Linked DNA regions of Homo sapiens. The protein of the gene in region 2 interacts with the protein of the main gene of each other region in a biochemical or structural test. Each region holds a gene or a part of one and is shown on either strand. Other genes may lie near its edges. The genes, in order: NLK and FOXO4.

Region 1 (12,522 bases), on a different chromosome or scaffold from region 2:
GACATCTCATGAGAGTAGCGATGATAAAGATCAACTAGCAAACATAGATCAAAAACTGAATTTCCATACTGGAGGAAAAGTGGAAGCAGGCAATATGCTAGGTTTATTTACATTCAATTATGTATTGTTGGTATAACTTTATACACATCTAGCTGGATTAGTGCTAAAAGACCATGAACATCTGCCTAAGGAGACCACTTCAAGCAGTGGATAAAAGCCGTTTAAAGACTTTAAAGTCTCTGCAAAGTGCATCTAGCCATTAAGCGGAAATGGCCTCCTAACTAGTTTTCACTCCACCAGTCTTCTCTTCAAAATCAAAATATGCCGACACCAAGACTGGAAAGGGCTGCCCCTAACTTTTACCACAGTGCTCCCTTAAGGTCATCACTAAACTCAGTGATAAGCAAAGGGATTACTGTTAAGAGGCCAATTAATAGCAAAATATATAAGAAATGATTTGTTTAGACATCTCAACCTATTTAACTAGTTAAATAATAGTGGAACTTTGGATTTTCCTTTCCTCTTCTTTTGCTTTACAAAATAATATATTTACCCTTTTTTTATTTCATGGAAAGTCTTAGGTTTTTACAACTAACAGATTTTTAAAATTTTCACAGAAAAAGTACTCAATTGCCAGGAATGCTCAGAGCAGTGCACAGTGACTTTTGGTGCAGTAGGTTACATTTTCCAGCCGTTCTATCTAGACAGCAGACAGGAAACTCCTCAGGAAACCTTGTTCTTCAGGCTGCTGTTTAGCAACTCTTTGACACAGATGATTAATTAACTAGCAACCATTAACAACAGTTAAAACTCCTCTAGAGACAGAAGGGTAGCATAAGGGTGTCTGATCTTCTTCACTCTTCATTATTGTTTACCTTGAACCAGGCAAGATTTACTAATTAATGAAGTCAGTGAAAGAGGACAATTATTTTGCTACTTCTAAGGACACATTTACCAAGAGGCATTAGTAAATTAGTTTTATGTTCCTGATGCTGGCCAATAAATGGAACATAATAGATCTTGTTAGTTCCTTCTATAATATAGAACTTTCCTCTAGGTTAAGACTTACTGTGCTCTTCTCAAGGTGTTAGGGCCTCATATTATTTTACAGTTCTAAACCAAATGCAACAGAAACATGTAACCATCAGAGGGCTATTTAACATACAAGCATACATCTCTATTTACTAGCCTGGGCTGGTTTTAGAAGAGAACACACTTTACCTCATTGCCCTTTATGCCTGTGACAACAAAAGCTCTGGAGTCACACTAGAATTACAAAGAGAGAACCGCAAAGGGAAGGTGAGGTCTTCCCTTTGCCACCTTCCCTTTGCAAATGTCTGGCTGACAGTTTGAGAGGAGGAGTGTCAAATTCACTCTGTCATTTGGTACCATCAATCAGATAATCTAAACGTCCAATTCAAAAGAAACCAAAACTCAGGAAAATTTGTTGCTGGGTCATCCTGTTCAAGTCTTATCTGTTCTGTTTTAATTTGTTGCTCCTAGGAAAAGTATTCCCCTTATTCACTCTTCACATCATTAAGCTGTTCTGTCCAAAGGAGATAAGGAAGTGCTTGTAAAAACTGTTGCTAAATCAACAGGTGGAGATAAAAAACCATTTTGTCTTTCTCAGCAGTGACTTGGCTAGTTGCAAGTAATACTGATGAGTGCAAATCTGGCAATCTATCTTCATACTTCTTTTCTAACAACGTTCACATCTGATTCTGTGTTAGTGGCAAGAGTGCAATAGCAACAGCTTCACAGTCCTGGCTGGAATAAGAAATACGAGGTATTTTGGCTCAGTATTTGGAAAGGACATCTTGATATACATGTAGTAGGTTATGGCATTGAGGTCAAAGCTCCATCTCCAGTAATTTTTCCCATAGACACCAATAAATCAGGAGACACAAAGCCAAGGGTCATCTATTAGCAAAGGAGCTACACAAACACGCACTTTCTCCTACGGCATTAGGAATGAGATTTTATTCAGTTTGACAAATATTGAACATTTTCTTACTTAGGACCTTGATGTTAAAAAAAAAAATCCTACAGATAATACATTTGCTTAAAAATCCTTAATAGATTACTCTATTGGAAGGGAAATCTTGCCCAAACAGATGGTTACCAGAAAAAGATTCCCCCCTCCTCTCACCTGTTTATGAGGACCCCTGAGTATATGTGCCTTAGCGCCTTCACAAGCTGTCCTCATTGCTTCCAGTGATGGTGTGCCCAACAGATCCGTGATCAAATCCAACTACAAGGAAATAAAATACAGATAGATAGTAATCTCATGGAAATAACTTTTCATTACTCTTAAATCATAGCCTTAGAGAAGTGGACCAAATCTGGGGGAAAAAACCTTAAGACAAGCTCTAGATTAACTGACAGGAGCCCCTACTTTCACTTTCTGGCCTATTAAAAAAGATTTCTAGGAATTTATAATAAATAAATTCCTCATGTAAAGGAATTTAAAATAAATAAATTCCTCATGTAAAGGAATTTAAAATAAATAAATTCCTCATGTAAAGGAATTTAAATAAATTCCTCATGTAAAGGAATTTAAATAAATTCCTCATGTAAAGGAATTTAAATAAATTCCTCATGTAAAGGAATTTAAATAAATTCCTCATGTAAAGGAATTTAAATAAATTCCTGTTATTATTCCTATTTATTATTTAAAAGTTCCTATCTATCCTATTCCTATTTAACATATTATTTATTATATATAGGATTATCCTATATATTCCATTCCTATTTATCCTATTTCTATTTATCCTATTCCTATTTATTCTATTATTTAGTTCCTATTTATCCTATTATTTAAAAGTTCCTACTTATTTATTTAAAAGTTCCTATTTATATGATAGAAATATAGAAAATATGTTTTGATAAGCATGACATTCTAAGGCTATAGCAATTTGGGAGTCTGCATGTCTGTCCTGTTTTCTTGATACCATAGCATCTAAGATCTTTGCAAAGTTGAACTCCTCTTCTGTTGATGCCTAATGACTATTCTTTCCAAACAGTTAATGAATGGATTCTGATGCTTCAAATGGATTCAGGCTCACCAAGGTGCTAATCCACAAATCAGACACCTGTGATTTAATAAATACTGAAAATATTCACACCTGAAATGAAAGCTAAGCTCTCCATGCTTGGGCCAGTACACATCCTTTACATTCTAGTCATGCTAGAAATCTCTTACGCTGGCAGAAAACTGTGACACTTAGAAAAATATGACACCACATAAGACCACATTTAGCTAGCTGGACACAATAAAAGAGACCAATAAAACAGTCTTCTTGCAAACAAGTCTTTGGGTAGCAAACTATCTTACCAATTTTCTGTAGTGTCACAATTGTTCTAACTTCATAACCTAATTAGCAATAACATTTCATTTGGATCCTTCCAGGATGGGAAATTCTTACCTAGAGAACACTTCTTTTCCTGGTTCTGGGCTTGCCGAATATAAAGCACTATTTTCTGCACTTATCTAAACCATGGGGTAGCCATCAGCATCAACACCCTACAGGTTAATGGAGATACTTGAGAAGCTTGCTTTCCACAGAAATAAAGATCTCTATACAAAGCTTTTTGGGAAAAGTGTGTAGGTGATACTTTTGGATCTCTAACAACCACACTAAAGGCAGAAGGAAATGACTAGCTTATAAAAACAAACTGAAACATTCAGAAAGTTGTCTAAAATGGGTCAGATCCATACATGAGAAACACTTTTATGATGTCTGCTAGTACCAGGGTAATTAAATCTCAAAGATACAGAGAAAATACAACAGGAAATAATGACTTCCATTAGAAGTTAGAGCCTTTTCCTATTTTAGATCTTCATTTCTCACCCCAACACACACCAACAATTAGACAGACATGAATTCTCCTGCAGTGGCTATGTCAGACTGCCAAACTGAAGATCTATGTATTTCTCTAGCAAAGGGATATCTGAACTCCAGTCCAGTTGCTTCACACTTTCCCTCACATATTTTTTGCAGCAGCAATTCAAGATTCTTGTTCCATATATAGGATTTGAATACTTCCTTATTATTTTTTACTTAAGCTTTTCTGTATGCAAGGTAGTAGTCACATCCATTTTATGACAGCTTATGTCCAGATATGATAGTCTTACAGGTTAAGTCTGTTAAACTTTACTTTCTGAAGAAATTGAAAAGTGAATATTGTCAAAAGTACCCAACATTAGATTAAGTATTATATGTACATAATTTTTTTAACACCAGAATCAATTTTTAAGATGTAAACTTTAAAAAAGACAGTTAAAACGTATAGCATAGAAAAATTTAAATGTTGATAAAAGCAGATATAGTTTCTAACATATTAGGTAAAAATTCTTTGTAGAAAAAGCATAAAAGAAATAATTCTGTCTGGTCAAGTGCATTAATTATTTACAAAGACACAGTAGTCAGTGTGATCTTTTAAAATGTCATCAATCAAATCTTAGTATTCCTTTGGTCAAAACCTTCATTTAAGTTTTCTATCACACTTAGAATAAAATCTTAAGGCTTTATCATGTCACCATGGCCAGGTTCTTTCTCACTTTCTGACCTCATTTCCTACAGCGTCTTCCATCACATACCTTCCCTCCAACATGCCATGCTTGTTCCTGCCTCAGGGGCTTTGTTATGGTGGTTGTCCCTCTTCTTGGAACATTTCTCCAGCATCTTACTGCCTTATTTTATGTGGGTGAAATGTTATATCCTCAGAGAATCCTTTAGTGCCTGCTCTGCTCTGCCACCATTGTCTGTCCCTAACCTGGCTACATTTTTCTTTATGGAACTTCCATTACTTGGAATCATATTTATTTGCATATTTATTTTTGTCTCATGTAAAAGTTTCACAAAGGTTAAGAACAATGCTGTCTTATTTACTGCTGTATCCCTAGAGTCCTGGCACACTACCACCATCGTAATTGCAAACATTTACAGAGTGCTTACTATGTGCCAGGCCCCGTTTTCAGCTTTCCTACTTCATTGTACAACAATCCTCAGAACAGTTTTAGGGGCCAAAAAAAAAAAAAAAAAAGAAGAAGAAGCAGCAAAAAAAAAGGAACACAGAGGTTAAGTAACTTACCCAAGATTTAACATAAGTGGTGCAGCTAGGATTTGAACCCACCAATCTGATTTCACAGCCTGAGCTCATAGTTACTACATTATTTTCATGCAAGCAAATTAATACAAAATACCCAGTAATTATGTCAATATGTGTATTAGTGAATAATTAGCTTTAAAGACAATTCAAGTAACATGAATGGCTTCTAAAGGATTCTCTGAGGAAATTATATTTTAATCATCTCCTGATGTTCTCTGCCATATTTAGATATTTTAGTCCAATAATAAAGGTTAGAAATTTTCCTAAATGTTCAGATTTCAAGAAATCAACACACTAAAAATTTATATTCTAAGCACAAAGTGTAAGTACATTAAGTCACCAATACATTTTCAAGTCAGAGCCATTCACTTAGAAGGAAGAGAGGCCTTCTAACAACTGAAGATTATACCTGTGCAAATTGTCATAGCAGAGCTCACAGCTATGCATCAGTGCATATAATAAAGTCAACTGGCCGGGTGCAGTGGCTCATGCCTGTAATCCCAGCACTTTGGGAGGCTGAGGCAGGTGGATCACCTGAGGTCAGGAGTTCGAGACCAGCCTGGCCAATACAGCAAAACCCTGTCTCTACTAAAAATACAAAAACTAGCCAGGTGTGGTGGAGCGTGCCTGTAATCCCAGCTACTTGGGAGGCTGAGGCAGGAGAATCGCTTGAACCTGGCAGGTGGAGGTTGCAGTGAGCCAAAATGGCACCATTGCACTCCAGCCTGGGCAACAAGAGCAAAACTCCGTCTCAAAAAATAATAATAATAATAAATAAATACATAAATAAACTCAATACTCCCTCTAAAGGCTCATAAGTTACAAAATGAATCTCTTTGTAATCTTCAACTTTATAACTTTCTGAATTTTAAGTGAACCTGAATTTCCTAAAAGCAAATTAGACAGTATAATGAATAAGCCCAAGACACATGTGCAAGATGGATTTTCCTTCAAATCTGCAATAGAATTGCAACTAAAGCCTTAAATTGAAATCATACCTGCTGAATGGGACTCTGTGCCTGAAACAATATTCTTCGTCCTAGTAGTTCTGCAAAGATACATCCCACAGACCAGATGTCAATAGCATTGCTGTAATGACGGCTGCCCATCAGGATTTCTGGAGCCCGATAATACTGAGTAACAACTTCCTGAGTCATATGACGGGATTCATCTAATTCTTCCACTCTGGCCAATCCAAAATCACAAATCTAGACAGAAAAGGCAATCAAAACATTATCAAGCAAATACAAATGAAAGAGTAAAACAAAACATCAAAATTTTGATAGGGCACTGAACTTTGAAACTTTTTTTTTTTTTTTTGAGATGGAGTCTCACTCTGTCACCCAGGCTGGAGTGCAGTGGCACAATCTCAGCTCACTGCAACCTCTGCTTCCTGGGTTCAAGGGATTCTTCTGCCTCAGCCTCCCGAATAGCTGGGACTACAGGTGCCTACCACCACGCCTGGCTAATTTTTTTTTTTTTTTGTATTATTTAGTAGAGAAGGGGTTTCACCATATTGGCCAGGCTGGTCTCAAACTCCTGACCTCAGGTGATCCATCTGCCTTGGCCTCCCAAAGTGCTGGGATTACAGGTGTGAGCCACTGCGCCCGGCCACTCTGGAACATTTTTAATGATATAGGTATAGTATATTTATGTCAATATACAATCTGGTTTTATTTGGTTAAGAGAGGAAAAAAGTCTCAAACTTACATCATTTTCTTAAAAATATTCTTCTCATCTTTATCAATAAAAACATGTCTGTTTTCAGTTGATAATCGAAGCAAAAAAAACTAGGTGAACGTAAACGACTTTATTTATTTTTTTAGACAGGGTCTCACTCTGTCTCCCTGGCTGGAGTGCAGTGGCGTGATCGATCTGAGGCTCCTCCCACCTCAGTCTCCTGAGTAGCTGGGACTACAGGCATGTGCTACCACACCTGGCTAATTTTTGTGGGTTTTTTTTTTTTTTTGTAGGGATGAGGTTTTGCCATGTTGCCCAGGCTGGTCTTGAACTCCTGGGTTCAAGCAATCTGCTTGCCTTGGCCTCCCAAAGTGCTGGGATAACAGGCGTGAGCTACTGCACCTGGCCAAATGCATACTTGTAGGTTTGATTTAGAGACCAACTGTTGGCCAGGCACAGTGGCTCATGCCCGTAATCCCAGGGATTGAGAGGACTGCTTGAGAGATCAGGAGTTTAAGACCAGGCTGGACAACATAACAAGATCTCAACTCTACAAACAATTAAAAAAAAAAAAAGCTGGGCGTGGTGGTGTGCACCTGTAGTCCCGGCTACTCTGGAGGCTGAGGTGGGAGGACTGCTTGAGCCCAGGAGTTTGAGGCTACAGTGAGCTATTACTGTGCCACTGCACTCCAGCCTGGGAGACAGAGTGAGATTGAGACCCTATCTTTAAAAAAAATTTAAAAACCCCCACAAAACCAATTACTTTCAAGACTAGTTTAGAGAGGAAGATATCATAAGATAAAGGGGTGTATCTTGAAGGTCTCCTTAGCTGAGACTGTGTCTGTCGTCTTTATGAAATATATGTGAATTTCTTTAAAGCAATGGGTTTCAAACTGACTCCAGTTGAATCTACTTCTGACTTTAGGCATTCCATGAATATTATATCCAAACTTCACATGTACCTATCTATTTAAAATACAAATTCATACTCAAATGTATAAATATGTTAAAATGCAGTATATGGTAGAATACTAATGCTATGGGGTTCATTCATTTCTTCATGCCATAAATATTTAAGTTAGTACTTGTTATATTACAGACTGTATGTTAGAATCTGGAGATACAGCAATAAATAATAAAGACAGGTTAACTTCTATACAAACTTAGAAATAAATCTTTTCTTGCTATTTCTGCTCAACTGAAAAGTATGCTGAGGGTTACAAGGTGAGCTATTAATAAACAGCAGCCGTGCCACCACCAGCAACTACTACTTATCTTTAGGAATTAAAATTTTCTTGATATTGGGCAATCAAAACACAACTAGGAGCACTGAGGATGAGATCAGATAGTAATGGCCATCTAAGCTCCAGTGTTCTCACTGATTAACTTTACAAGTCACAATATTGCAAGTGATAAAATATGATTTTAAATCTGTTTTCTAAATTGAAGTCCCCAAATAAGATTTTATTTGAAAAAGAGTTCCGGCAGCTTAAAAAGAAAATCTGAAAACCCCGTTCTAAAGAAAACAAAATTTATCCCCCAATTTTTGGCAATCCCCTCTTTCTGATTTGAATCTACTATGTCTGGTTACATCAAATGAATTCAGATGTGTATGTGGGAATGAATCAGTATGAAGCCACCATCTTTACAACTTAAGAAAGCAGGAAAATTTTCCATACTATACAGATAAACCATATAACATAACAACAAAAGCCCGAGTTCATCAAATATGTTCAAATAACATATATATATATATATTTTTTGAGACAGTCTCACTCTGTCACCCAGACTGAAGTGCACTGACATGATGTCGGCTCACTGCAACGTCTGCCTCTCAGGTTCAAGTGATTCTCGTGTCTCTGCCTCCTGAGCAGCTGGGACTAGTGGCATGCGCCACCACGCCTGGCTAATTTTTGTATTTTTAGTAGAGACAGGGTTTTGCCATGTTGGCCAGGCTGGTCTCAAGTTCCTGGCCTCAAGTGATCTGCCCACCTCAGCCTCCCAGTGCTGGGATTACAGGCGTGAGCCACTGCGCCCGGCCAAAATAACATATAATATTTTAAAAACTCTATTACTTGGCCATGACTCTTGAGGATATTTTTAAAAACCAAACCAACAAAAGGAAAGAACATAATTTTTTTCTCATATTTATATGAGAAAAACCAACCAACCACCCATCCAACAAAAAAAGGCCTTCTGTTATAAAGCAAATCCCTTATTAAAAACATCAGTATGATTTCGTCATTTTTAGCAACTTATTTGGAAGACAACCTGAGTCCAAAATAGGAAGCTTACATGATCAGATAACTAAAAAAATTCCAGCAAAATTATCCATCTTGTGCTTAATAGGAAACAAAATACATTCACGATATGGAAGGATACTGATTTTTAAAAAATGTTTTGTTATAATGATCTTCAATGAATTTGTATGTTTGAGAAGAAAGAACTAGTGTCTATAGCCTAGACTCTATTCTGGCTTTTTAAAAGTAGGCCCATAAGATGAGTCAAAGGAGTGGAGCAAAATTTGTTTGTTCTGATTTGTGTGTTGTGTATTCACAAATGGCATTTTCCTTTAGTTGCCCATTCATACAGTCCAAGGTTATAAAACCATAACGGACAATTTGGAAAATGAACTTCAAGCAGTTAATGGCATCAAACATGACAGGTCCTGCACAAAATCCTGTGTGAAGTCTTCCAATCAAAAACCAAAATAAGAAGAAATTGGCTTAAACTGTCGTAAGATTGATTAGGTATGAATAGGACAAAAAAATTTCTAACTATAAGGTTTAAATTTTTTTTTTAATTAAAAAACGATTATGGGGATAGGTTGCAAGTTCTCTTTAAAAAGTGAAAAGGTGGCAGGAAAAACTCAATAACCTATAGAAGGAATACTTTAGTAGATTTTGGTGGCAATTAACTTCTCTGTGGAAACAAAAGACTGAATTACAACATCAGCTATTTTTAGGGAAAATATGAAAAATAGGTTTTCATCTTTCTTGAGTTAAAATAAGGGTGAGGGTTCTTCAAGGCTATAATGAAGGGAGAATTTTCATTCATAAGCAGTATAATCCACCAGCTTTTCAAGAGAACTGACCTACAGTTCAGAGAAATCATTTAAAATAAAAAATGAATTTTATTTATACACTTGGTTTTATTACTTAGTTTAACCGCCAGCAACCTAAGTAATAATGATAGTCTTGATTACTTTTAAAGTGGGTAACATTTTAAAAATTTATTTTTCTTTTCAAATATAGCAGTTAAAGGCCCTTATTTCCAATTTCTATTATGAGGAAAAATATAGTGGACCTCTCTCTATTCAAGAGTTCTGCCAATACACATCTGTATTAGAGGTAGGGAAATACAAATATGTGGACTTTGCTATTTGCAAGCCCCTTTTTAAATGAAAGACAATGGCTGTACTAGGGAAGAGAAGTAAAACTGAAACTGATGACTTGAAATTTTGGAACTACTAAATATAATTCTGTAATCAATTCCTCTTCAGAGGAATAATTAAGAATTGGCTACTATACATTATGGAAATACATTGGATAGATGCATATTACCCTTTTCTGGTTTGGCATTTTCACTTTTTTTTTTTTTTTTTTTGAGACAGGGTCTCACTCTGTCACCTAGGTGGAAGTGCAGTGGTGTGATCACAGCTCACTGCAGCCTTCACGCTCTGGGCTCAGGTGATCCTCCCATCTCAGCCTTCTGAGTAGCTGGAACTACAGGCATGTGCAACCACACCTAGCTAATTTTTGAATTTTTTATTGAGATGGGGTTTTGCTGCATTGCCCAGGCTGGTCTTGAACTCCTGGGCTCAAGCAATCTGCCCGCCTCAGCCTCCCAAAATGCTGGAATTACAGGCATGAGCCACCGTGTCTGGCCAGCACTATCCCTTTTAAATATGTTTCTACTTCTTACTTTGCTACCTTGGTCAAACAGCATATAGATATGTTAGCTGTGTAAAAATGTAAATGGTCTTCCTAAAAGTCACACTTCATTCTCTTATATAAACAGATGCTTGCTGTTCTAATATTTCTTCTGATATGCACTTCTTTTAATAATGGAACAAGCTGTAAAGGAGTCACCTTGTCTATTCTTCTTTCTAGTTACACTACAATTCCAATTTCAGTGTTTCTAAAACATAGGCCAAATATCATGAAAAGAACATGAGGCAGGACTACAAATTATTACCATGGCTATGAGTAGTGATATGGAGAAAACTGGGTTAACTTTTGGTAAAGTAATGGAAATGAACTTCTTTCTTTCACAAAAATATGTTGTTCTTAAACCTGCCCTGACATTCTGATTTTTCCCAGGTATTTAAATAAACTGAAAAGCTACCTTTAGAACACAGTTGCTGTTCACAAGGAGATTCCCTGGCTTAATGTCTCGATGTAAAATGCCAGCTGAATGGAGATATTTCAAACCTGAAATAACAAACAGATTTAATTGCAGATATTTAATTCCTTTTACTCAACCAATAATTTAAAAAAAACCTTGGAAGAAAACAGTAGAGGATTTAAAATTGTTCCCTAAATAACTGCATAATGAACATTATTAAAAGCTAGTCCCACCTCAAAATACCGTAATTTTGCTACAGTAAAATAAAATGTCACCAAAGGTTTGCAAAGTCTAGAGATAATGTCTATAATTTAAACAATTATGTAGGTTTAAATACAGATAAGCTTCTTAGGCACTCGAGTTAAGACCATACTAATAACCTTAGATTGCTAGTCAGTGTGGCTATTGGACTGCTGCTATTGATACTCTTAACCTGCAACTCGGAGCCTGCTCCAACAAAACAGTTTCCATTACTACAGGGAGCCTTTCCCAGGACAGATGTTTCACTGATAGAACAAAATTCAGGAACTTGCCCACACTGTCAGTAGTATTCTTTACCGCTCAGAATCAAGAGGGTAATGAACCACTTTAAAAATATTTGTGAAATCTTAGAAGACCAGTGTCTTCATTCAGTACTGCTAAAGGTCCCAGCCTCAAGGTTGAGTCCTTTTTGTGTGCGTTTTTCTTTTTTTCTTTTCTTTTTTTTTTTTGAGACAGGGTCTCGCTCTGTAACCTAGGCAGGAGTGTGGTGGTATGATCACAGCTCACTGAAGCCTCGACCTTCCTGGCTCAAGCCATGCTCCCATCTCAGCCTCCTGAGAAGTGGGAACTACGGGCATGTACCACCATATCCGGCTAATGGGCTGAGTCTTTTTTGGATAAAATGTAGCAAATCACATTTTTCACAAGTACAAAAAGAGCCAATATCTTCCCCATTTTCCCCTACCATAGAATATGAACAAATCTTAGAGGTGAACGTTTTTGTTTTTTTTGAGACGGAGTCTCACTCTGTTGCCCAGGATGGAGTGCAGTGACGCGATCTTGGCTCCCTGCAGCCTCCACCTCCTGGGTTCACTCGATTCTCCTGCCTCAGCCTCCCAAGTAGCTGAGACTACAGGCGAGTGCCACCATGCCCAGCTAAGTTTTGTATTTTTTTAAAGTAGAGATGGAGTTTTGCCATGTTGGCCAGGCTGGTCTTGAATTCCTGACCTCAGATGATCTGCCCGCCTCAGCATCCCAAAGCGCTGGGATTACAGGCATGAATCACCATGCCTGGCCTGGAGGTGAGTTTTTTAGTTTTAATATTGCTTATGTGGCTGGGCGCAGTGGCTCACGCCTGTAATCCCAGCACTTTGGGAGGCCGAGGCAGGAGGATCACAAGGT
Region 2 (13,280 bases):
CTGCATAGAAATCCCAGGCTCCAGCTAGCCTGGCTCAGCTCAGATAAGACTCTCTACAAAAAAATCCTGCTCCCAAAGGCAGGGGTAAGGCCACTGGTGACTTCACATTTCCAACAGCATTGCTCATCTTGCTACAAAGCCTAAGTGGGTAGGAATGGGGAAAGCCGATGATGGCTCCTGAGAGGGGGCCTTACCCCCTAATTGGCACAGTGAGAAAAACCCTCTCCCCTTTCCCCTCCCATCTCCCTCCCCATATCGTCCCCAGATGGGGCAGCTTTATCTTTATAATTTCTTCAACACCTGTGTGTGACCAGACCCCACCCTAGCTCTAAAGCAGGGTCCCAAATTCCTGGGGAGGGCTCAAGGGTAAAGAGTAGATATGAACACGCCTGGCTCCACATCTGAAGCAGGGGACAAAGCTTCCAGGCATGACTCAGGGATCTGTGGGAAGAAGAAACAGAGAACAAGGTAAGAGGCTTACCTGGGGCTTGCCAACATTCTATCATCCAGATTCCCACCAAAGAAGATGGTGGCACCTAACCCGCTTCCATACACATACCTTTTCTGTGCTACCTTGCAGGGCTGGGCACAGCTAAGGGGCCTGGAGGTCCCATCCGGAAACTATGCTACTGTAATATGACATCTTCCCTCCAGTTCCCCAGGAGCTCTGGCTACCACTTGTCCTAAATCTCCCCTTCGCCCAGATCATGGGACTAGCTGGGCACCTAGGAGTGGTAATAGGCTATGAGGTGCTGTGGTGATTAGGGGGTACTGTACCTGGCTCAAAGTTGAAGTCCAGTCCCTCGCCCTCATCCATGAGGTCACTGATGATGTTATCCATGTCACACTCCAGGTTCTCCATATACATATCAAGATCTAGATCCTGAGGCATTCTGTCTTGGCTTGCAGCTTCAGTAGGGGGTGTGAGCACAGGAGTCCCCAGAGCCTTGGGGATGGGGGCACTTGCCATGACTGGAGGTGGTGCTATCATAGAAAGGGTGGGAACCAGACTGCTGGGGCCTGGAGCCTCTAGGGGCTTGGGACACAGGCCGACGCCCGTGGCCAGCTTACTGGAGGAAGGAAGCCCCCCCAGCAACAGAAGAGTCGGAGCCTGGGACAGAATGGGATCTACCTGGGTCATGAGGACGTCAGCAGGGGGTGGTGGCGTATCAGAGGTGAGCAGGGCCTCCAGAGCCTGGGAGCTGGAGAAGCACCCTTCTCCTGCTGACAGGGGCCCCTCTGCTGGGCTGAAAAGGGAGCTGCTGTAGGTGTGTAAGGGGCCGGTAACCCCAGGATGCTGCAAAGAGAAGCCAGAGAGACCACTCCGAGATAGCAGGGAATGGGAAGAGGTGAGATTGAGCCCATCTAACAGCTCTAGACCTTCATTGAGGGTGGGAGGGACACCCCCTGCATAACTGCTGACTGAAGCTGGTATTTCCTCCGCCAGCACCTCAGACTCTGGCCTCAAGGGGGACAGCCGGGTGCTGACACTGCTGGCATTTGAACTGCTTCGTGGACGGAAGGTGGTCCACATATCGGCTTCTTCACGGTTTCGAGAGCAAGGGCTGCCTGACCACTTGGCAAAGTGGCCGACAGGGCTCGTTGGAGTGGCACCTTCGGGTGGAGCTGGCAGCACAGATGGTTTCTTCTTGGGGGCTTTACTGCGGCCCCGGAGCAGCTTGCTGCTGCTATCCATGGAGGCGGCCCGGCGGCGGGGGGCTTTGCCGCTCTTGCCTCCCTCAGGGTTCAGCATCCACCAAGAGCTTTTGCCGGTGGCCTCGTTGTGAACCTTGATGAACTTGCTGTGCAGGGACAGGTTGTGGCGGATCGAGTTCTGGAGGGGCAGAGATGGCAGGAAAGGGGCGTGAGGTACTGTAGGGGAGGTCAGTGGCCAGCGGTCAAGTCTAAGAGGATGCTGGACCCTGATGATCTAGGGTTTAGGATTTGGTGCCACCACCGCAGCAGGGTTCATTTCGGGGCTTCATTTCCCAGGTCATTAAAGTTTAAGAAAAACTTTAAATAATTTACAAAAAAAGAGAAAAAGATAAAAGATAAAAGGGTGCTGGAACACAGCAGGGGTATTCCTGGAGACTCAAAGAAAGTTGAATCCAGGGGGGAAAACTGGTAGAAGTAGGGGTGGGGGTGGGGTGTGAGGGGAGACCACACACATTTCCCGCTCCCAGACAAGCTGCTCAGCCTCTGCTCCAGACTTCTCTGTACAGCGGGTGGGAGATAACGTGTAATAATCCACTGCAGAGAGCACGGGGGATGCCCACCCTGGAAAAGCTCCTGGTACTCTGCTCTTCCCAGGGCTTCGTGTGTGTTTTGCGGGGGGTGGGGGGAGCGGTACCTGGGGCTGGTGGGCACTGGGGAGACGTGCTCCTTGCCCAGCAAGAACTAGGTTCAGGTGGGAAAGAGCATTGCACCCCTTTCCTTGAGTGCAGGTTTGGGTAGAGTTTACGGGACAGTGGTACAGCACCAGCCCAGGATGGACCCGCCCTGCCCAGAGCCAGTTCTCTGAATAGGCTGAAGGGCTGGAATCTCAGCACAGCAGGTGCTCCATTCCCCACAGAGCATTTGGGCCACCCAGCTCTCTATAGAATTTAAAGATTCCTTTTTCCCCCCTCCCTGAATCCCAGCCTTATTTCTTCCAATCCACAACACACATCCTCAACTACATTCAGTTCAGGTTCAGGCTTCCTGCTGTGCCTCAAATGCGTGAGGTGCAATCTTCCCCTCCCCTCTTTTCCGAGGAGGGATCTCCCCTCTCTAAGTTTTACTAGTTCCGTCAAGACCAAGCTTCAGTTCCACCTCTTTTATAAAGCGGCTGCTTGACTTTGGCAGCCAAATTTCTAGTATAGTATTTTTAAAATCTGCGCCACACAATTTCACCCAATTTATATTGTGTGGCTTATGGTTTCATGTAATTCGTCTCATCGAGTGTAAGTGCCAAGTGTAATGTCCTCCAGTCCCACATCCCCCATCAAAGCCCTCCCAGAGCACCAAGCTCACAGCACATATTCTATACCTACTCAAGCTCACAGTACATAATCAATATTTGTACCTGATTGGTGGGTTGCCCCTGGGTTGACAATGGTGAGGCTCCCCTTGAGGCTCTGCCAGCTCTTCAGTGCCTTGGGTATTGGAAGCTGTATGTTTTCCCTTCCTCCCTCACTGGTGACATTCTACTAGGGAAACGATGCTTTCCAGTGGCCCAGGGAGCTGAGATTGGCAGCTTCTTCAGCCCCCAGTGCAGCTTATATTTACTGATTGCCGCGGGGCAGGCTAGTTACACAAGGGGTTTGGCCCTCCCCTGGCCACCCCCCTTCCCGAAACCTGCCTTCTTTTCCCTACCTCCTTCCCAGTGCCTTTCCCCCATTTCTCAGGAATTTGTGCATAAACTCTTCAACCTTGGGGGCATTTGACCTCCCACTTGGAGGTCTTTAGTTTAGAAATTCAGGAGGAGCCCAGAAGTGCTTAGAGCAACTAGGAGGCTGAGTACATGGGACGGTCAGAAACTACTTGTTTCTCTGACTGGTGCTCTTAAGATAAGGAGCACCTTTGCCTGGGGAATGATGCTTCTTGTTCCAGGGTTCTTTAGCCAAAGAACTCCTTGTGTTCCTGGGACCCTGAGGTAATGGCATTTCAACTGTGCTGATGTTCCTTCAAGGAGTGGCACTTGTCCATCCGGCCTCACCTCATAGTAACTAAGGACCACAATGACCATGACCTGGCACTATGATTTCTCCTCTTTTTATCCTCTAATTCTGGATCTACTTGAGAAGATCCATTCCTTTCCCTACTACTTAATAGCCACAAGGCCCGTTTGTCTCCTCTTCTTTAGGCCTTGGAACTAGCAAGTGGTACACAGACTCTTAATTGGAGAGGTCAGTTTCCCAAAAGCCCATAACTCTTACATGTTGGAGGGCAGGGTGGTGGGGGTGACTGCTAATTGCTCCCTAAGCCACCTAATCTAAACTTTCTTGTTCTAAGTGAGTGCCGCCCCCTGGTGGGGTGGGAGTAACCTTGGCATATCATCAGGGAGGCCAGTTCAGGCATGAGACTTCCCCTCAGAGAGGGGTGGGGGGGCCTTGAAGTCCCAGGCTCAGCCTGATTTGACTTTGCCCTCATTCCAATTAGAGCAAGCCAGGCTCTTTTTAGAGAATATGATTTATAGTTAGACCTGAGTTCAAGTCCTCACCCTGCTGTTATTAGGTGAATTTCCTAACCTTTTGGTACCTAGTTTCCTAATGTGTAAAATGTGGAATCTCAGAATTGCTGTAAAGATTAATAAAATAAAAACTTTAAAAACTACTTTGTAAACTCTAAAGCCCCACAGAAGTGTAGATTATAAGGACGGACTATACTCCCACAATATAACTAACAACTTGTTATTTCCTCTACCCTGGAAAATGAACCTAAGGGAAAAGAAAAACAGCTGTGTAGGCTGGGTCCAAGGAGGGGAGCTTTTTATGAGCTGAGACTGTGGCGTGGCAGTCTACCCAGAAATAGTGCCAAGGGTCTCAGTCAGCTGTCCTATCTTCTGTTCTGCCCAGCCCCTAGGGATAGCACAGATCTGATCCCTCAGTCTCCTATACCTAGGGGAAGTTCCTCTGCTCATCCAACCTTCTGTACTTGGTTATATGCTGACCTCACCACCTAGAGAGGTACAAGCCAGCAATAGGGCTTGAGGCTCCCCAATTTTGTGATTACAGCCCCATATTTTCTCAGGACAAGTTTTTCAGAGTATCCTTTGAGATATTCTCTCACAGTTTCTTCACAGAAGGCCAAGAGAACTCCCAACTTTGTGCTCTAAAGTCAGAGCCCTACCTCCTTCTTCATGACTAATATTCCTTAACAGTAAAGGATGACTTCCCCCCAAAACTTGGATAGCCCCTTACAAGGGAGAGTTTCTTGGCAGCACAGGGTAAGCTGAGCCAAGTGGCAGCTCACAGCCCTTTTTCTTCTTAGTGCATGAGATCAGCTACCTTTCCCCATGAATATTATTGTTTTTACCCTTTGCCACTGCACTCCCTCCTCCTGGGTAGAGCAGTGCTAGAACAGTACCACTACACTGAGGTACTGGGAGGCAAGCAGGGAATCCAAGTAATCCCACAGGAATGGGAGAAAAGGTGTTGGGGTGGGAGGTGGGGGAGGAGGGAAGGGTAGGTTCATGTGGGGAATCCACACAGTTCCTGCTGTACATAGGATAAAGACTTCTCTGTGGGAATAAGTGTTTGGGGCAGCCCAAGCCAAAGTGCTGCGAATATTGAGCAGTGAGCAGAGAATTCAATTTTCTCCAGGGCAGGGACAGTGTCTTATTCATCTGTGATCCTTCAGCATCAAGCACCGAGTGTGGCATATACTATGTACTAAGTAAATGTTTGTCTAACTGGAGATTGAAGGTGGATCTCTGGGCTTCCCAAAGGGGGTGGGGGTGGGAGGTAGTAAAAGGGGCCCCAGAGTAGAAGTAAGGGAGGCTAGGGGGTCCAGGGGGTAGATGGTGTTGGGAAGAAGGTAAGAGGGTCATAATTACCTTCCATCCTGCTGAGCTGTTGCTGTCACCCTTGTCCTTGAAGTAGGGTACAGTACGGACCATCCACTCGTAGATCTGGGCAAGTGTCAGTCGCTTCTCCGGGGCGCTTTCAATGGCCTGGCTGATGAGTTCTGCATATGACTGATTTCCCCAGGCATTCCGGCGGGAGCCTCCCTTCCGAGGACCTGTTACAGCCCCCAGGATTCCGGGCTGGGGGCCCCCGGCCGGCTCTGGGAGCCGAGAGGGCAACAGGATCGGCTCTGAGCGCCCCTCCGTGTGTACCTTTTCCCCCAGATCTGGCTCCACCTCGGGCGGCTCGGACGGCTGGTTAGCGATCTCTGGTCGGGGAAGGGGCCAGGTGCAGGAGCGGGGACGGCTCTGGGGTTCGAAGTCGGGATCTAGGTCTATGATCGCGGCAGCCTCTGTGGCTGAATTCTCATTCCCCGGATCCATACGTGGAGTTGGACCTCCCCGGCTCAGCGTTCAGTGAAGCCTGCCACAGTCCCTCACGATGCCTCCCCTCAGGGGGGAAGCATCGAGGGCCAGGAGGCACATTCCTGCCAGTCTTCAGAAAGTCGCGAACTTCCCCCTAGTCCCAGGACGCTAGTCCCTAAGCTGTCCCTTCACACAGTTCTCCGATCCCCTTCCCGACTACAGCCTGTAGCCTCAAAGCTCTTTCTGAGATGCCACCTGTAACCTCTGCCGAGCGAAGACACTTTTTCTGCAACCTCTCACTCAGCTTCCTGCTCTTTTAAACCTGAGGCACTGTATCCCCTCATATATTGCGCTCCCATCACCGAACGTCTCCTTAGCCGCAGTTCCCTCCCCCTTTTAAGTTGCTGCCCCCCGGACACTCCTCCCAAATTTCCTCCACCCGGATTGCTGCCCTCCCCCACGCCCCGCTCCCCCGCGTCACTTGCCCCTCCCCTGACTCCCCCTTCCCCCGCCTCTTCCCTTCTCGCCACTCTTACTAGGGTCCGGGTCCCCGCGGCTGCGGCCTCCCTTATTCCCGCACCGATTCCCCTATCAACCCCCCCCACCCCCCGCCCCCCGGGTTTCCCTTTTGTTTTGCTCCAAGCAGCAGCCCCCTCCTGACGTCTCTGTTTACCACTCGCCGGGGCAGCCATCTGCGCACGCGCCTCGAAAGCCAGTCGGGAAACCGAGTTCTGCAGTCGTGCCACCCTGGTCACTCTTGAGGACTACATCTCCCGTCCTGCTTCGCGGCCAGGAGCCCGATACGGCGGCAGGAGAGCGGCGTGGCAGGATATAACGAGGTGGAACTTTAATTATTAGAAGTCGTCGCGGACTCTTTCTTTTCTTAAGAATCGTTTTTCGCCCTTTCCCCCTTTCCATTGTCTCCCTTGTGATTCAGAGTCGTGTAGGTGACCAGATTGAGAGGTGCTAGCCCTTTCCCTCCTTCATTTAGGAGACGGCAAAAGGGAAAAAATTATTCTCTTAAAGATGCAGGAGACCAAGAAGCAAGAAGCAAGGAACTGACTAGAAAATAGGATGTATGCACGTTGGAGAGTTGGGTGGGGGGCTTGTGTAACATAAACAAATGGTTAGCCCACGGTGGTGTTCCTCCTCACCCCCTTCCTCCTCCCTCCACCCGCCTTCATCCCCCCATATGCAGTTCCCACTGACAGTGAGGTCTCACTTACCAATCAGTTTCCTCCACTGGCTCTTCTGGCTTTCCCTTCAACACCGATATTCTCCAGGTTCACATCTCCAACGGCTTCACTTCTCATTCAACAGGTCCAAACTCATTATCTGTTCCTGCACCCGCACCCCTATCCTCTGGCTACCCTTATCTCTGAATTTGACTTATGGTAGTCCTGATCTACCCAGTCTCCCAAGCTCCAAGCAGCAGCTTAGAGGTAATTACCCATTACTTCTTCATCTCCGTAACTTTCTACATCCAAATCCCAGTTCAAGACCTATTTATAACTGCATTTAAATTGTAGGATCAGCCGGGTGCAGTGGCTGACGCCTGTAATATCAGCACTTTGGGAGGTCGAGGCAGGCGGATCACTTGAGGTCAGGAGTTTGAGACCAGCCTGGCCAACATGGTGAAACCCATCTCTGCTAAAAATAGAAAAATTAGCCTGGTGTGGGGCACGCACCTGTAGTCCCAGCTACTTGGGAGGCTGAGGTGGGAGAGTCGCTTGAACCCAAGAGGTGGAGGTTGCAGTGAGCCAAGATCATGCCACTGTGCTCCAGCCTGGGTGACAGAATAACACCCTGTCAAAAAAAAAAAAAGGTGCAGTATCATCTTAATTGGATCTCCTTCCATCAGTCTTTACCTCACTACAGTTTATATTCAGAGCTGCCAGCAAGGTTACCGTTCTAAGAAACATGTCTGGTAATTATGGCTAAAATTTATGGAGCCCTTATTATGTGCCAGTCTCTGTGCAAATTGCTTTACGAACATTAGTTCATTTACTCCTCAATCATTTACTCCTCAATTCAACCCCATGAGGTAGGTACCACTATTATCCGCATTTTATAGATGAAGACACTAACAATGCTCAGAGATTGACTTGCCCAACGAGGCAGAACTGGGATTATATAACTTACATGCGATCGTATAATTTCTTTCTTTCTTTCCTTCCTTCTTTCTTTCTTTCCTTCCTTCCTTCCTTCTTTCTTTCTCCTTCCTTCTTTCTTTCTTTCTTTCTTTCTTTCTTTCTTTCTTTCTTTTTCTTTCTTTCTTTCTTTCTTTCTTTCTCCTTCCTTCCTTCCTTCCTTCCTTCCTTCCTTCCTTCCTTCCTTCCTTCCTTCTTTCCTTCTTTTTTGAGACAGGGTCTTGCTCTGTCACTCAGACTGGAATGCAGTGGTGTGATCTTGGCTCACTGCAGCCTTGACCTGCTGCACTCAAGCAATCCTCCCATCTCAGCCTCGGGAGTAGCTGGGACTACAGGCATGTGCCACCACGCCCAGCTAATTTTTGTATTTTCTGTAGAGACGGGGTTTCACCGTGTTGCTCAGGCTGGTCTGGAACTCCTGACTTCAAGTGATCCACCTGCCTTGGCCTCTGAAAGTGCTGGGATTACAGGCATGAGCCACCGCACCTGGCTATAAATTTTGTTTTTTTGATCATGTAATTTCCCTGGTTAAATCTTCCTCTGATTTTCCCCATTGCCTGTGTGATAAAGTTCAAATTCCCTCGCAAGGCATGCCAGGCTCCTCAGATTCAGGCCACTTCACACCTTTCCTGCACACTAAGTTACAAGCAGAGTTTCACACTATTTCCTGGAAATACCATGCCCTTTTATACCTTTCTCTCTGCATCCTGGGATATCATCCCTCTTGTCATTCCTCTCCACGTCTCTTATTTTGGAAAACTCCTATTCAGCCTTCCCTGTCTCCCTTAGGTGTGATTAGTTCTCCTTTTTTTTCTGCATTCCTAAGCACTTTGTGCAGTCTTATGTTATATAGCACAAACTATATTGTATTGTAATTATTTGTTTACTTATCTGTCTCTCCCAGTAAACTGTGAGCTCTTATTTATTTTTTTTTTAGACAGGGTCTCGCTCTGTCACCCAGGCTGGAGTGCAATGGCACAATCTCGGCTCACTGCAACCTCCACCTCCCAGGTTCAGACGATTCTCCTGCCTCAGCCTCCCGAGTAGCTGGGATTACAGGTGCCTGCCACCATTCCCAGCTAATATTTGTATTTTTAGTAGAGATGGGTTTTCACCATGTTGGTCAGGCTGGTCTTGAACTCCTGGCCTCTGGTGATCCACCCGCCTTGGCCTCCCAAAGTGTTGGGATTACAGGTGTGAGCCACAGTGCTCGGCAAATATCATTTATTAAATGAAGTATCACAAATAGCATTTGGACATTTAACAACTTTTAAATAAACATGTCCTATGCATTTTTTGCCTGGCCCTGTTCCAACTGTTAGACAGCAACCTCTGAGGGGCAGGGACTGTAATTTGGCTTGTCTGCCACTTGCAGTGTTTCTATTGTGTTCTGTGATGATGCGGCCTTCCTCCTGTGCAGAAGGATATCCATGCAACCCAGGATTTTTCAGCGGTGGCAGCACATTGGGCCTCCAAAGTGATATTAGCCTGATCATGGTAAAATAGCCATATTGGTTCTCCATATTCCTGCCTTCTTCTGCTCCAACATGCATTTGTCCTCCACCTGTTACCTAGGTGTATACAAAAGGCCATATATTCCCATCTGAGGTCCAGACTAGAGAGATGAGACATAGTTGCTCACGATGCCTGCAAACATTCCCTGCACATGCCCCTTTTTCCTTCACCCCAGCTAAGGGTGCCTGATAAGTGCTGCATGAGTGGTGAATTTGGTAGAGGAGAGAGCCTTGTGGCACTAGGTCACAAGGAGATCTCTTCTAACTGAAACAGCTATGATGGCAGATCATGCAGAGTTACTGAGACAGGGAAATGGCAGGGTGGGGCAGGCACCTGTCCTGGCCTGAGTTAAATCTTGCATTGTCTCTCTTTGTGCATTTGTTTGAAAAGGTCCACCTCTCCACCAACTCATGTCCATCACCTCCTTAAATTTACAATTCAAAGCTCAAAACTAACCTGCCCTTGGAAACTTTTCCTGACTAGTCCAACCTGACAGGCCACTTCTCCAATTTGCATCTCCTGAACCTCTATGAACTCAGTTTGTATTTTTATTTTTTATTTATTTTTTTTTTGAGACAGAGTCTTGCTTTGTCGCCCAGGCTGGAGTGCAGTGGTGCGATATCGGCTCACTGCACCTTCCACTTCTTGGGTTCAAGCAATTCTCCTGCTTCAGCCTCCCTGGTAGCTGGGATTACAGGCGAGCGCCACCACACCTGGCTGATTTTTGTATTTTTAGTAGAGACGGAGTTTCACCATGTTGGCCAGGCTGGTCTTGAACTCCTGACCTCAGTGATCCACCCGCCTCGGCCTCCCAAAGTGCTGGGATTACAGGCGTGAGCCACTGCGCCCGGCTTGTATTCTTTAACTTTGTGCTTCTGCTTACATGGCTTTTCATTTCATGAGGGCATATTGTCTCCCCAACTAGATTATAAACTCTACTATCAATCAACGGATGTTTGTGGAGCCTTTACTGTTGAGAGTACACCTTGAAATCCTGGACAGATAAAAATGACCACACGTCATAGGACCAGATAATTTAGGAGGACGAGCTAAAGGATTGGTGGGATGGTAAAAACACCATCATGACTTTAAAGCATGCAGATAGAGAGGTCAGGGTTGTTCAGCTGTGAAAATGTTGCAAAATAACATTAGTCAAGAGACAGAATTAGCAAGATGGTCTTGGAAAATAAAAAGACATTGGGCAGGAAACAAGATTAATAGGAGGCTCCCAGAAACCACCGTAGCTGTAAGCTACAAACAGATAATGGCAGGATTTAGAAGACACAGGCTTTTCTCCCAGTTTGAAACCCCAGAGTTTATTTTCTCAAATGTCCCCCCATTCACAATTTGTTTTTTTTCCTCTTCAAGGTCATAGGGGTTTGGCTCTCTTGACTTTCACTGCCACCGCCCACTCTTCTACTTGGGTGCCACGCCCCTACCACAGGTCTTTTGCCAAACTGGCTCTATGAATTTGAATTGAGTTTGACATTTCCCCACTTCTTACTCTACCCAGCTCTGAAGAAACACACAATTCACATGTAGCGTTTTTATAGGATTTTTGCTAATAAACACATGGAAAGATGAACACAAATAACAATGAAAAAAATTCAAGGACGCTCAGAAGGTACCACCTCTATTCGTCCCTGATCTTCACAAACGTATATAGAACGTCCATATATTTGCTTTTTCTCTTCCCTAAGTCTTTTCTTATGTGTTTCTGTGAAAGATTTCTAGTCCTTGTCTTTTTTTTTTTTTTTTTTTTTTTTTTTAGACAGGGTCTCACTCTATTGCCAGGCTGGAGTGCAGTGGCGCGATCTTGGCTCACTGCAACCTCCACCTCCCAGGTTCAATCGATCCTCCCATCTCAGCCTCCCAACTGGCTGGGAACACAGGTGTGCACCACGACGCCTGGCTAATTTTTTGTATTTTTTGGTAGAGAAAGGGTTTTGTCATTTTGCCCAGGCTGGTCTGGAACTACTGAGCTCCACCCACCTTGGCCTCCAAAAGTGCTGGGATTACAGGTGTGAGCCACCATGCCCAACCTGGTCCTTGTTTTAGAAGCCACCCTCCCAACTCTGTCTGTTATTGTTTTAAAAAATCTTTTCACAACCTAGGCAACATAGTGAGACCCCATCACTACAAAAAATAAAAAATTAGCTGGGCATGGTGGCTCATGCCTGTAATCCCAGCTACTCGGGAGGCTGACATGGGAGAATTGCTTGAGCCTGGGAGATCGATGCTACAGTGAGCCATCATGGTGCCACTGCACTCCAGCCTGGGATGAGACCCTGTCTTAAATAAATAAATAAATATCTTTTCAGTTAATGACTTTTTTTTTCTGAGACAGAGTCTGTTGTCCAGGCTGGAGTGCACTGGTGCGATCTTGGCTCACTGCAACCTCTGCCTCCCGGGTTCAAGTGATTCTCCTGCCTCAGCCTCCTGAGTAGCTGGGACTGCAGATGTGTGCCACCATTCCTGGCTAATTTTTGTATATTTTATAGAGATGGGGTTTCACCATTTTGCCCATGCTAGTCTCAAACTCCTGAGCTCAAGTGATCTGTCCGTCTCAGCCTCCCAGTTCTGGGATTACAGGTGTGAACCACCGTACCTGGCCAATGAACATTTCTTAAGGGTCTACTATTTTCCAGACATCAGGGTTGGTACTTGCTCGTAAAGTGCACCCTAGAGTGAAGTACTCAGATTTTAGCCCCAAATAGCTTTTTTTTTTTTTTTTTTTTTTTTTTTTTTTGAGGTGGAGTCTTCCTCTGTCGCTCAGGCTGGAGTACAATGGTGTGATCTTGGCTCGCTGCAACCTCCACCTCCCAGGTTCAAGCAATTCTGCTGCCTCAGCCTTCTGAGTAGCTGGGATTACAGGCACCCGCTGCCACGCCCAGCTAATTTTTGTATTTTTTTTTTTTTGAGGCGGAGTCTCTCTCTGTCACCAAGCTGGAGTGCAGTGGCGCGATCTCGGCTCACTGCAAACTCTGTGTATTTTTAGTAGAGATGGGGTTTCACCATGTTGGCCAGGCTGGTCTCGAACCCCTGACCTCAAGTGATCCACTAGCCTTGGCCCCTCCCAAAGTGCTGGGATTATGGGCATGAGCCACCACCGTGCCCAGCCCCACATAGACTTGAGTTGGCACCACTTTTTTGGACCATAGACATAACTCTGGTGCAGTGAAAAGAACACTAGATTGAGTCAGGAGATCTGAGTCCTTGTCATAGTTTTGTCACTAACTAGTTGAAAAATTGATACTAATTACACTAATATTGATAAGTAACATTTATTGGGTTTTTATTATGTGTTAGGTACCATGCTAAGTGCTTTATGTGGATTATCTCATTTAGTCTCACAACAAATGTATAAACTCAATGGTAGTACTGTTTTCATTTCACAGAGGAAAATGAGACTTAGGATAAGGAGACATGCTTAAGGTCCAGAATTACTAAGTGGTAGAGTAGAGGCACAAATGCAGGCAGTCTGACTCCAGAGCCTAAACAAGTCAGTTTCACTCTTCTGGCTTTGGTTTACTCATTTGTAAAATGAGAGTGATATATGAGAAGATCTCTAAAGTCTCTTCTAGCTCTAAAATCCTATTTTCTGTGATCTCCAATCTGGGTTCGAGACCCCAGGTTGCCCTTTA

Evidence for each region.
Region 1: of the proteins of FOXO4 (region 2) and NLK, one has a biochemical effect on the other in vitro, tested with the Homo sapiens proteins (one study listed by BioGRID).

What each region holds. Positions count from the first base shown.
Region 1 is NC_000017.11:28,162,246-28,174,767, reverse strand, and holds part of NLK (serine/threonine-protein kinase NLK), read right to left. Parts: intron 11,226-12,522; coding exon 11,140-11,225; intron 6,321-11,139; coding exon 6,111-6,320; intron 2,252-6,110; coding exon 2,150-2,251; intron 1-2,149. UniProt on the Homo sapiens protein: Serine/threonine-protein kinase that regulates a number of transcription factors with key roles in cell fate determination. Positive effector of the non-canonical Wnt signaling pathway, acting downstream of WNT5A, MAP3K7/TAK1 and HIPK2.
Region 2 is NC_000023.11:71,089,238-71,102,517, reverse strand, and holds the start of FOXO4 (forkhead box protein O4), read right to left. Parts: upstream 6,668-13,280; 5' UTR 5,990-6,667; coding exon 5,537-5,989; intron 1,835-5,536; coding exon 778-1,834; intron 442-777; coding exon 434-441; 3' UTR 1-433. UniProt on the Homo sapiens protein: Transcription factor involved in the regulation of the insulin signaling pathway. Binds to insulin-response elements (IREs) and can activate transcription of IGFBP1.